3 linked regions of the Homo sapiens genome follow. The protein of the gene in region 1 interacts with the protein of each later gene in a pairwise test. Each region holds a gene or a part of one and is shown in the gene's direction. Other genes may lie near its edges.

Region 1 (3,326 bases):
GTTGCAGTGAGCCAAGATTGCACCAGTGCACTCCAGCCTGACCAATGAGCGAGACTCCATCTCAAAAAAAATAAAAAATAAAAAAACAAAAGAACCTGGCATAATAGAAAAGGCAGCACCCACTTTCTGTTGGTCCCCTGTGTGCTCCTGTGCCACCCCTGGGGTAAGACCCTTGGGCCTCATTCTCTGTTGACTGTGATGAGGGCAGGGATCAGCCGGGTGGGAGAAGGCCAGGGGTGTGGGAGCACTGACATACAGGGGCTCAGCATGGGAAGGGCTGGGGAGGAATTGAGGCCAGGCATCCAACTGTGAAACAGCCTCTTTCCAAGATGATTCTGGAATGTTAGTGTTCTGTGGGGACAGGATCACAGACACTGTGACTCCCTTGGTGCAGGGTCTGTCCCACAGACCCTGACCCAGCGACGGATGAAAGACATACACTGCCGGGTGCGGTGGCTCTCGCCTGTAATCCCAGCACTTTGGGAGGCAAAGGTGGGCGGATCACGAGGTCAGGAGATCGAGACCATCCTGGTTAACATGGTGAAACCCTATCTCTACTAAAAATATAAAAAATTAGCCGGGCATGGTGTCAGGCGCCCGTAGTCCCAGCTACTTGAGAGGCTGAGGCAGAAGAATGGCATGAACCCAGGAGGCGGAGCTTGCAGTGAGCCGAGATCGCACCACTGCACTCCAGCCTGGGCAACAGAGACTCTGTCTCAAAAAAACAGACAGACAGACATACACTGACAGATATTTTGCCTGTCAGTGCGGCTAAGGGGCTCTGCAGCCTGAGTCTGCAGTGTAGTCCTCAATGCCAGGCGAAGTTCGCATTTATTTAGTACAGACTAAATGACAAAGGTCTCGAGTAAACACCACTAGAGGGTAATTAACATTGCCGACCCCCTGAATAGCGAGCAATCATGCACCAGTGGATGATCAAAGGTTGGTCTTAGGACCACATGAGTAAACAAGCTATTTAGGTAAACTCCCCCACATTCCTATGTATCTGCACCCTAAGCTTTTAAGAGAATTCAGCTGCCTTCAGCCAAACCCTTTACTGAAGCTATGCAAACCTCTCGGCTTTCCAAGAAGGTTTGTGTCTATTTCCTATAACTTTATCTTAAATTTTCTCCCACCACCCTGACCGATCCCCTACACCTTGGGGTCACAGATAAGTGAGGAAGTGGGTAGGAGAGAGAAAGTGAAAAAAAACTAGTAGCCAGAGGTGCAGGATGCCTCATTTTGTGTTCAGGCAGTAGAGCAGCAGCCCCAGCCCTGGCTCCTTGCCAAAATAGCCGCCCCGGAGAGGAAGAGGACAGAGGTGTCTGTGTGGCCCTGCGAGGTCTCCAGCTCACAGCCCCATCCCCTGCAGGCCTCATCTACATCCTGCTCAAGCACATGGTGGACCGGCACAACCTCTACTTCGTCTACCTCCCAGCCAAGCTGGAGAAGGGGATCCACTTTGCCGCTGTGAACCAGGCCTTGGCAGCCCCCATCCTGTGCCTCTTCTGGCTCTACTTCTTTTCCTTCCTGCGCCTGGGTGAGCAGCCCTTCTGACCTGGGGCCAGCCCTTGGCCTCCCAGCCCTGCATCCCCACCAGCCAGTCAGATCCCTCATTGCTTTCACAGCATCAGCATGGCATCCAGTCAGAATGTGGTGCCCAGAGTGAGGGCTGGTTAGGTGTCCCATCAGAACGTGGTACCCAGAATGAGGGTTGGTTACATGTCTAGTCAGAATGTGGTGCCCAGAGTGAGGACTGGTTAGGTGTCCAATCAAAACATGATACCCAGGGTGAGGGGCTGGTTGGGTGTGGTGTTGACAGCCTGGCTCCTAAGCTAGCCCGAGTGCAGGTGTAACCCTTGTGAAGGCCTGGTCAATTGTCCCATACATCCCTGGAGAGAAGATAGTGCCTTTATCAGCTGTGCAGGGACTGAACCAGAGGAAATGGGGAAGCTGATCCAGATTTGCCCTTTGAGGCTGGTGGTTGGGCCCAGCTCCTTGTACCTCCTGGCATGGAAGAGGTGGGGACGTGGAGGAGAGAAAACTGACACTCCTGGGGGAAAGACACGTCTGCCCCGGTCAGACTGGGGGTGTGGGAGGGTCCATCCTCTCTAGCCCAGGGCACTGGAGACTGGAGGGAACGGACCAGCAAGGAGGCTGAAGAATTGCCATTGACTTGGCACCCCAGTGCCTGAAATCTGACCAGGGATGATGCCAGTCATTCAGTGGGTCCCTCTGTGTGTTCCTGGCTGTGAAGACACCATCCTTGCTGCTGGAGTTGAGGGGTGGGGGTGGGGGGTTAGGCCTTACCTTTATTTTCTGCCTGAGGGAGAAGTCACGGGCAGTTTCCACACCAGGTGCGGCCCCTTCCTCAGCAGGGTGAGGGTAGGTGGTGGCCCCTCCCTGCCCACCCCAAGGCTAGCCACCCTCTATCACCAGGTATGAAGGCCCCCGCCACTCTGTTCACCTTCCTGGTGCTGCTGCTCACCATCCTGGTCTGCCTGGCTCACACCTGCTTTGGATGCTTCAAGCACCTCAGCCCTCTGAACTACAAAGTAAAGGCCCCCGACCCCACTGCCCGGTCAAGCCCTGGGAGGAACAGATGGTGGGACGGGCTCGCTGTCAACCCCGCCCACCCTTGTCTGTATCAACACAGCAGCAGCCTTCTCCAGATTCTGCTTCTCCATGGGAAAGGCGTGGGTGGTTGGGTGCCATGTGTAGCTTCCCTTCCTCCCCTCATCCCTGCACTCCCCCACCCCATCCTCTCTCGGGCTGCTGGGGAGCTTGGTGCCAGCTGGTACTATTATTCCGGGTGTTAATAGTCTGTGTGTTTGGAGGGTGTTTGTTCACAGAGATCAGTTTTGTTTATCATCGCAAGTTTTTGCTGTTATCTGCAGACAGAAGAGCCTGCAAGTGACAAAGGAAGTGAGGCAGAGGCCCACATGCCCCCACCGTTCACAGTAAGCTGTGCCCCTCAGCCTCTGAGCTTGTCGCCCTTTTTTTTGCTTTGGTTGTAACAGTCCCAACCAGATGGGCCCCGGCAAATCTTTGATCATCTCTTGCTAAGATCACATGGCAGGCAAGTTTGTGAATTAATGGCAGAGAAGGAATCCTGGTCCCCCTGGGTATTTTAACCTGCATATTTGAAACTGTTGAGGAGATAGAGTCTTGTCTCGATTCATGGCCATCCCCCTTGGTTTCAGTTCCCTGCTCTCTTTCCTTCTCTGCATATTTAATGCCTGGTGAGTTTGGGGCTTTAGTGAAGGCACATGGTAAGGCGCTAGGGTTTGACAAAGGTTTGTCATCAGCGATGCACCTGCCTGTGC
Region 2 (3,654 bases), on another chromosome or scaffold:
GGCCCTGTATTGCTATCCACTCTACAATGCACTTCCCCCTGCCCCCACCATTTTAATGTCTCTGAAATCAGAATGCATTTTACAATGGATGACATCTTGGAGCTCTACTGGGGTTGGATGGCATTTTTTTCTTTCCTAGTGATATATAAAATAGTGGTGCATCTTCATTCGATTTTGTCTTAGAGTCTATGAAATGTGGTGATTAGTATGACAGTCATCGGCTATAGCAGCTGGGCTGGGAGAGCTGTATCTTCCAGGCCAGCTGCTACCTCATCTCAAGGGTCACTTGAGTTTGTCCTACAGCCAGGGCCCAGGGACAGGCTTTGTCTTTTCCTTCCTTTACTTCCTCCCAAGGAGTTGGTGGCTGCATCTTGAAATCCATCTCCCTTCATCTAGCCACCTATTTTTCAGGATGGGCCATAGGAGGCAGTGGGCCCAGGAGGACCTCAGACCCTAGTGAGCTGCATTTGAACAGCAACAGTCACTTCATCTTGCTGAGCCGTTGGCTTGTGGTCTGATTGCTTGTTTCATTTCATTCTTTTGCTTGGTTTGATTTTTAAAGTTGACATTCTCAAGGGCTTACCTGTGCCTGGCACATGGCCATGAGTCATCTTACTTAATACTCACAATTGTTGTTATCTCTATTTTGTGTATGGGAAAACTGGGCTCAGGAAAGCCAAATAATCTGGCTGAGGCCCCAAAGTTAGTAAATGGTAGAGTTGGGACTTGAACCCAGGTTTTTTAGTCCTCAACTCGAATGTTATACTAGCACCTCTCAGGCTAGAGTACCTTCTCTGTGGCAGTGGATTTGCTGATGTCTGAATTCCTGCTCAGCTTGATGTTTACATGGTGAGAGCCAGCTAGGCTGCCCCTGCTTGTGAGAGGTGAAAGCCCCAAGTAGATAAGGTGCTGAAGACACGATAGAAACCAGGACTGACACCAGGTGTTAAAAGATAGCCCTGTACTGGCCGGGTGCGGTGGCTCACGCCTGTAATCCCAGCACTCTGGGAGGCCGAGGCAGGCAGATAATGAGGTCAGGAGATCGAGACCATCCTGACTAACACGGTGAAACCCCGTCTCTACTAAAAATACAAAAAAATTAGCTGGACATGGTGGCGGGCACCTGTAGTCCTGGCTACTCGGGAGGCTGAGGCAGGAGAATGGCGTGAATCCAGGAGGCGGAGCTTGCAGTGAGCCGAGATAGCCCCACTGCACTCCAGCCCGGGTGACAGAGCAAGACTCCATCTCAATAACAAAAAAACCCCCAAACAAGCAAACAGACAAAAAGATAGCCCTGTACCAAGGTACTTATAGGGGTTACAGGTATTTAGGCATTTGCCATGTTTTCCCTTTTTTTTCCTATGGTGTAAATATACTACGTTTGTATTAGCAACAAAAAGCAACGAGAACAACCAATAATAAATAATAGATTAGAAAATCAAATGTGTGAGGCCTTTCTCAGAACTTGGGTACAGGGACTCTCCCTTACCCTGCAGAAGTAACCAGCACTCCAGAGAATGAATGCTCACCCTCAACCCCACCTGACCTGCAGTGCTCACATTTGCCATCTACATTGTACTCATAATTTTAAATCCTAGACTAGTGCCTGTAATCCCAGCACTTTGGGAGGCCAAGGCAGGAGTATCTCTTGAGGCCAGGAGTGTGAGACCAGCCTGGGCAACATAGTGAGACCCCCATCTCTACAAAACATTTTTAAAAATTAGCCAGGCATGGTGGCACATGCCTGTATTTCCAGCTACTCAGGAGGCTGAGGTGGTAGGATCACTTGAGGCCAGGAGTTGAGGCTGCAGTGAGCTATGATTGTGCCACTGCACTCCAGCCTGGGTGGCAAAGTGGGATTCTGTCTCTATTAAAAAAAAATTAAATCCCAGTTTACATCCTCCCTCCTCCAGGAAGTTCTCCACAAACGCCCCAGCCACACACATGTGCATATGCTCCTGAACATCAACTGTAGTGGACACGGTGGAGTGCCACCCAGATCCCCCTGCAGGACCACAGCCCTCATCCCCATCTACTGGGAGTGTTGGCAACTGACAGTTTTTGGCAATTGCCCACTGCTGAGGAGAGATGCCTCTTTCAAGGCCTCGCTGCTTTCCCTGGGACAGCCAGAAGCTGTGACATCTATGAGAGGGGATTAAAGGCCCTACCCTGTTGCCCTCATTTAGGCAACTGGCAGGGTGCCCTGTGGGGTCACCTGATGCCTTTCTTGTGACTTCTCCCTCTGGCCTGTCCTGCTTCCTCACTTCTTTGCACATCTTGATCCTGAGAGCATTCCCCTGTACATTTCCTGCAGGCTGATTTCCTCTTCAGAGTCTACTTCTAGGGACCTGTATTAGTCTGCTCTGGCTGCTATGACAAAATTCCACAGATTGGGTGGATTGAACAACAGAAATCTGTTTCCTCATAGTTCTGGAGGCTGGGACGTCCCAGATCAAGGTGTCAACAGGGCTGATTTTGCTTAAGGCCTCTCTCCATGGCTAGCAGATGGCCGCCTTCTTGCTGCATTCCCACTTGGTCTCTCCTCTGTGCGCGCATCCCTGATGTCTCTTTTTATGTCCAAAGCTCCTCTTATAAGGACTCCAGTCAGATTGGGTTAGGGCCCACCCTAAGCGTCTCATTTTAACATAATCAACTCTTTAAAGGCCCTGTATCCTAATACAGTCACATTCTGAGGTACTGGGGGTTAGGACTTCAACATATACATTTTGTGGGTTGGGGGAAGAGCATAGTGCAGACTGTAACAGGACCCAACATGCAGCACCTATGGCACCCTTGGGGTGCCTTACTTTTTCATCACTTGTTAATCTGGTAGCCTATGTTAGCAGGTGCCTTTCAAGTGGGAAGGGGTTTTCTTCCCAGTTGCACTAACAGAGCCTTTGATTCAGTTCAGCAAACATCTGTTGAATACGTACTGCCCACAAACCAGAGTCAAGAGTTGGGAAAGAACAAGATAGTATGGTTTTTATTTGTTCATTCCAAGAACAAGAGGAGGAATGAGCAAGACATGTTGTAACTCTTGTGATGTCTACACCCCAGTGAAAAAAAGAGACTCCTAAACAGGTGTCTCCTGCAGCACTGGGGTGTGTTTCAGTGCTGCAGGACCCTGAGGAGGGTGGGTGATGGCTCAGGCAGGAGGATATGGGTGGATTCTAAGACAGGAGGATTCTAGGCAAGACTCACTTTGAAGGATGCATAGGGACTGGAAAAGCAGAGGGAAGGGAAGTGAACAGAAGAGTTTTCCAAATCCCTTTCTTATTAAAGTAGGGATAATAATTAGACAAGATCAAGCATGTTCCAGGTAGTATGGCCATAGACAGGGATAATAATTAAAAGCCTCCGAGGGTTGTTTTGAGGATAAATGAGACAGTATATCCAAAAAACTTAGCAAACTATCAAACCCTTTACAAGTATATGATGCTATCATCAGCAGCAGGGAGTGGGGGGAGAAGAAGAGAGCGATGGTCAGGATGGGGGCAGTAAGTGTGCCTCACACGCCTCAGGCCCCTGACACTGCTTTGCACAGTGCTTTATGCCCAGCAGGTTCAATAAATGCCGATTGAGTAAATGAATGTCAGAAGCAGCCCCAGGCACCTGATCAATACATACATGCAGGCCTCCCGCTGTGGGCTCCAA
Region 3 (3,654 bases), on another chromosome or scaffold:
TAAGCCCAGGAGTTCAAGATCAGCCTGGCCAACAGGGCGAAACTCCATCTTTACAAAAAATACAAAAATTAACGGGATGTGGTGGTGCATGCCTGTAGTCCCAACCATTCAGGAGGCTGGGGTAGGAGGATTTCTGGAGCCTTGGAGGTTGAAGCTGCAGTGATCCATGATCATGCCACTGCATTCCAGCCTAGGTGACAGAGTGGGACCCTGTCTCAAAAAAAAAAAAAAAAAATTCAAATAATTCAGACATCAAATATGGCAACTGGAATGAATCTTTGCTCATTATTTAATGGAAGTCAGAATCAAGGTATCATCTGACCGAGATCCCAGATAACAGATTAAGGTCTGTTTGGACATTAATTGGAGGTTTTGAATGATCGAGATTCTCTTTAGTTTAAAGAACCCACACCTTCATGGAGTGTTGTAGAACAGAAGGCTTCAAATAATTATAATGAGATAACCCCAGATCTAACTGTATTTTTATTTTACTGGGATAAAACTCCTGCACAGAGGTGGAGAGAGAATAAAGGGAACATGTCTTACCATGGCCTCTGGTCTGGGAATAATTTGTGACAAGTCTAGAATCTTTTCTAATGAGAGGAACCAGCTTCTCCAATGACTTTAGCAATACTGGTTTTAAGTTGAGTGGAACAAATGGCTCTTTCATTGCCTTAGATTGTAGCTAGCACTGACAAGAAAGAAAGGGTTTTTGGAGGTTGAAGATGACAGTGCCATACAACTATCTGAGTCTACACAGATTTCCCTAGAACGCCTGTATTCAAGTAATAGAACATTTATCATGGCATATGGTAAATTTTCTTTGAGAGGTGGATTAGTCATTAGGTATTCTGCCGGACTTTTAAGTGGAAACTTACTGTTTTATGAGCAATTTTAAAGTTACTAATAGTATTCTTAGGGAAAATGTGCTCAATATATGAGAATGGTGCTGAACAAATATTTTATGACTTCCCATTAATCTTTTAGTAATCATTTTATATATTCCCATGCAAATGAAAATATTTAGCTGATGACTCTAACAGGAAGAAAAGTGTTTCTTAGAGTGCACTTTTATTTATAACTCCATTTCTGAATGGTGTATGGTGAAGTTAACTGAATTTGGATCTTCCACAAGAAAGAAAAGTTTTATAATATTCAAATAAGAAATCCAAATAGTTTCCTTTTCCATTGATCATAATGAGAATGTGTCCTTTTCTAAAGCTTGTCAATGAAGTATAAATAGGAAAATTGATTTTTTAACTTCCCTTCTATAGATATTGTCTGGCATTCAGCTTTTAAGGATTATATATAAAACAGCAGCACCCAATAACTGATTAAAGAACAATTTGAATAATTTATTATTTTCTGTAATCCTTTTCCATAGGTGTCATCATTCGTTCATTTGTTCACCATTCATTGATTTATCAAATGTTTACCTGGCTTTTCTTCTATGCGAGGTACTATTAGGAGTGGGCAGGAGAAGGCAATACAGGAAGAGGGGGAAAAGTTTCCAAAGATGAATATCATAGATGAGCCACTGCCATTAAAATTACAGAAAAGTAAAGTAATGTTCTACACCATGATGAATATTATAATAGAGGTTTGAACAAAGCATCGTGGAAGCTCAGAAATGGCACTGAAATGGGTCAAGTCACAGTTGTGCTTGTTATGACCAGAGATGGAGAAATTAAAGGGAAAACTGTGCTCCCTCTAATTCTTTTCAGTTACATTCTTACTATTAATCTTCATAAATTTCATAAATGCCTATACAGCCTAGATCCATGATGAAAAGTTACAAATGTGAAAATCTTTTAATTCTTGCTTTTTTGTTTCCTTTAGCTTTCCCAGGATAGAAAGTCCATAATAATAATTGGCAAAATAATTCAGCAAATAGTTCAGTTCTAGAAATTTCTTTTAAAATATGGAATTTGTGCCAGTGCCTAGGATATCTATCTCTGCTTTACAATTAGTCCTTATTAGCTATAAGGACACTAAATACGTCAAAATTAAACATTTTATTTAAATGAATGGCTTATTTGGCAATGTAATAACAGTATATTAAATTGAGTCCTTTTCTTCTGAAAAAATCAAAACATATACAAATTGTTTAACTTGACCTTGGAGAACCTAAGAAAGAAGATGGACAAGGGCGATACTTTAGACTCCATTGTGGAGTCGAGGAAAGGGGAGCACGATGAATGGACTTTCTCAAGAATTGGATTAATCTCTCAAGCACATAATCAGAGTGAAGATTTATTCTGAGCTCCTGAGGGCTCCCAAGGTATCCTGCCATGTCAGCAAAGTATCCTTCCACAGAGACAAGGAGGCAAATGTGTCTGCAGAAGTAAAACAGATATGAGCTTATAAGTTTACCGAAGGCTGAGTGGGTGAGGGTCTACCTTTGCTTTCATATTTAGGCTGCATGGACCTTGATACAATTTTTACACCTTTAATGGCATTCGTCTTATGTGCGGCAACCTTTTAACAGTATCCCATTGGAAGCACATGGACCTGTGTCTGGGATGTAGATTGTGGGAGAGGGATGGGAAGGCAGCTATGCAGTGCAGTTTGTCTCTGCCTCTGCACTTCTGCTCCATCCTCCAGGGATGCGCCTGTCATTTCACTTCCCATGAATTGACCTGCCAAGGTCCAATAATGAACTCAACCTTGTTGCCAAGACTAACTCTTAAATATCCTAATTGGAATAATACTCTTTGTGCCAGAAGAGATGATCTCATCCAAAATTTCAGAGTGGAGTTGAGAATGGGATTACTGCAACGTCAAATATGGAGGGTCTTTTTTTATTTGCAGAGTAAGTGTAGGTACTTTTCATAAACTTCCATAAAACGCAGGATATGATCACTGTGTCAGTCTTGTTCTTGAGACAGAATACTTTCCATTTGTGAATTTGTAATAGTTTTCAGTGTTATCTGTCTGTACACTTGAATAGTTCATAGCATTCATTAATGAGGCCAAGGTCATTGATTTGATCCCTGCCTAGAATGAGACATTCTTATTAGGTCTGTGACTCTATTCAGGGATGTTACTTTTTTCTTTTTTTCTGTCAAAATAGCCCCTTCCTCATCAATTCCCATCTTCAGGGCCTATCTTTACTATTGTCTTCCTAATTCAAATCCTTTTTATATCGGAAAAGCATCTGATAAGCCAATTCGCATCAAGATATGCAATTTAGAAATAACTGCCTTTTATAAGAAGATTGAATCAAGAAAGAAATTTCCTTAACAGACTACCAATAGTGAAATTTTGGTTAAAAGCAGATAAATTCTGTCCTAAAATATGGTTTCTCAATTTTATTAAAATCATGATGACCTAACTATACATAATTTTGTTTTTAGTTTGAGTTCACAGTCATGCAAATCAATATCATTAGTCAGAAAGGGAAATAGGTAAAAATGTGTTACTGCTTTTTGGAAACTCATCAGAACCCCAAGGTAAGGAACTGAAATTCCAGGTCACTTTAAGATTGACTAGGAACATCATAATAATACCAAAGATTGAGAACTGGACTGTGGGCTTGGGGGAAATATTACATTTTGAAATGATTTTGTAATTACTGAGAATAAACATGGAATCTTTAGAATCTAACATAGATGGTTTATATCTTAAGACAAAATGTTGCTAATCTTGCTTCAT

What was found.
Region 2: the proteins of TMEM63A (region 1) and DRD2 interact in a two-hybrid assay, tested with the Homo sapiens proteins (one large-scale study listed by BioGRID and IntAct).
Region 3: the proteins of TMEM63A (region 1) and GPR37 interact in a two-hybrid assay, tested with the Homo sapiens proteins (one large-scale study listed by BioGRID and IntAct).

The regions. Positions count from the first base shown.
Region 1 is NC_000001.11:225,848,126-225,851,451, reverse strand, and holds part of TMEM63A (mechanosensitive cation channel TMEM63A), read left to right. Parts: intron 1-1,372; coding exon 1,373-1,540; intron 1,541-2,439; coding exon 2,440-2,555; intron 2,556-2,897; coding exon 2,898-2,960; intron 2,961-3,326. UniProt on the Homo sapiens protein: Mechanosensitive cation channel with low conductance and high activation threshold. In contrast to TMEM63B, does not show phospholipid scramblase activity. Acts as a regulator of lysosomal morphology by mediating lysosomal mechanosensitivity.
Region 2 is NC_000011.10:113,426,857-113,430,510, reverse strand, and holds part of DRD2 (D(2) dopamine receptor), read left to right. Parts: intron 1-3,654. UniProt on the Homo sapiens protein: Dopamine receptor whose activity is mediated by G proteins which inhibit adenylyl cyclase. Positively regulates postnatal regression of retinal hyaloid vessels via suppression of VEGFR2/KDR activity, downstream of OPN5.
Region 3 is NC_000007.14:124,755,648-124,759,301, reverse strand, and holds part of GPR37 (prosaposin receptor GPR37 precursor), read left to right. Parts: intron 1-3,654.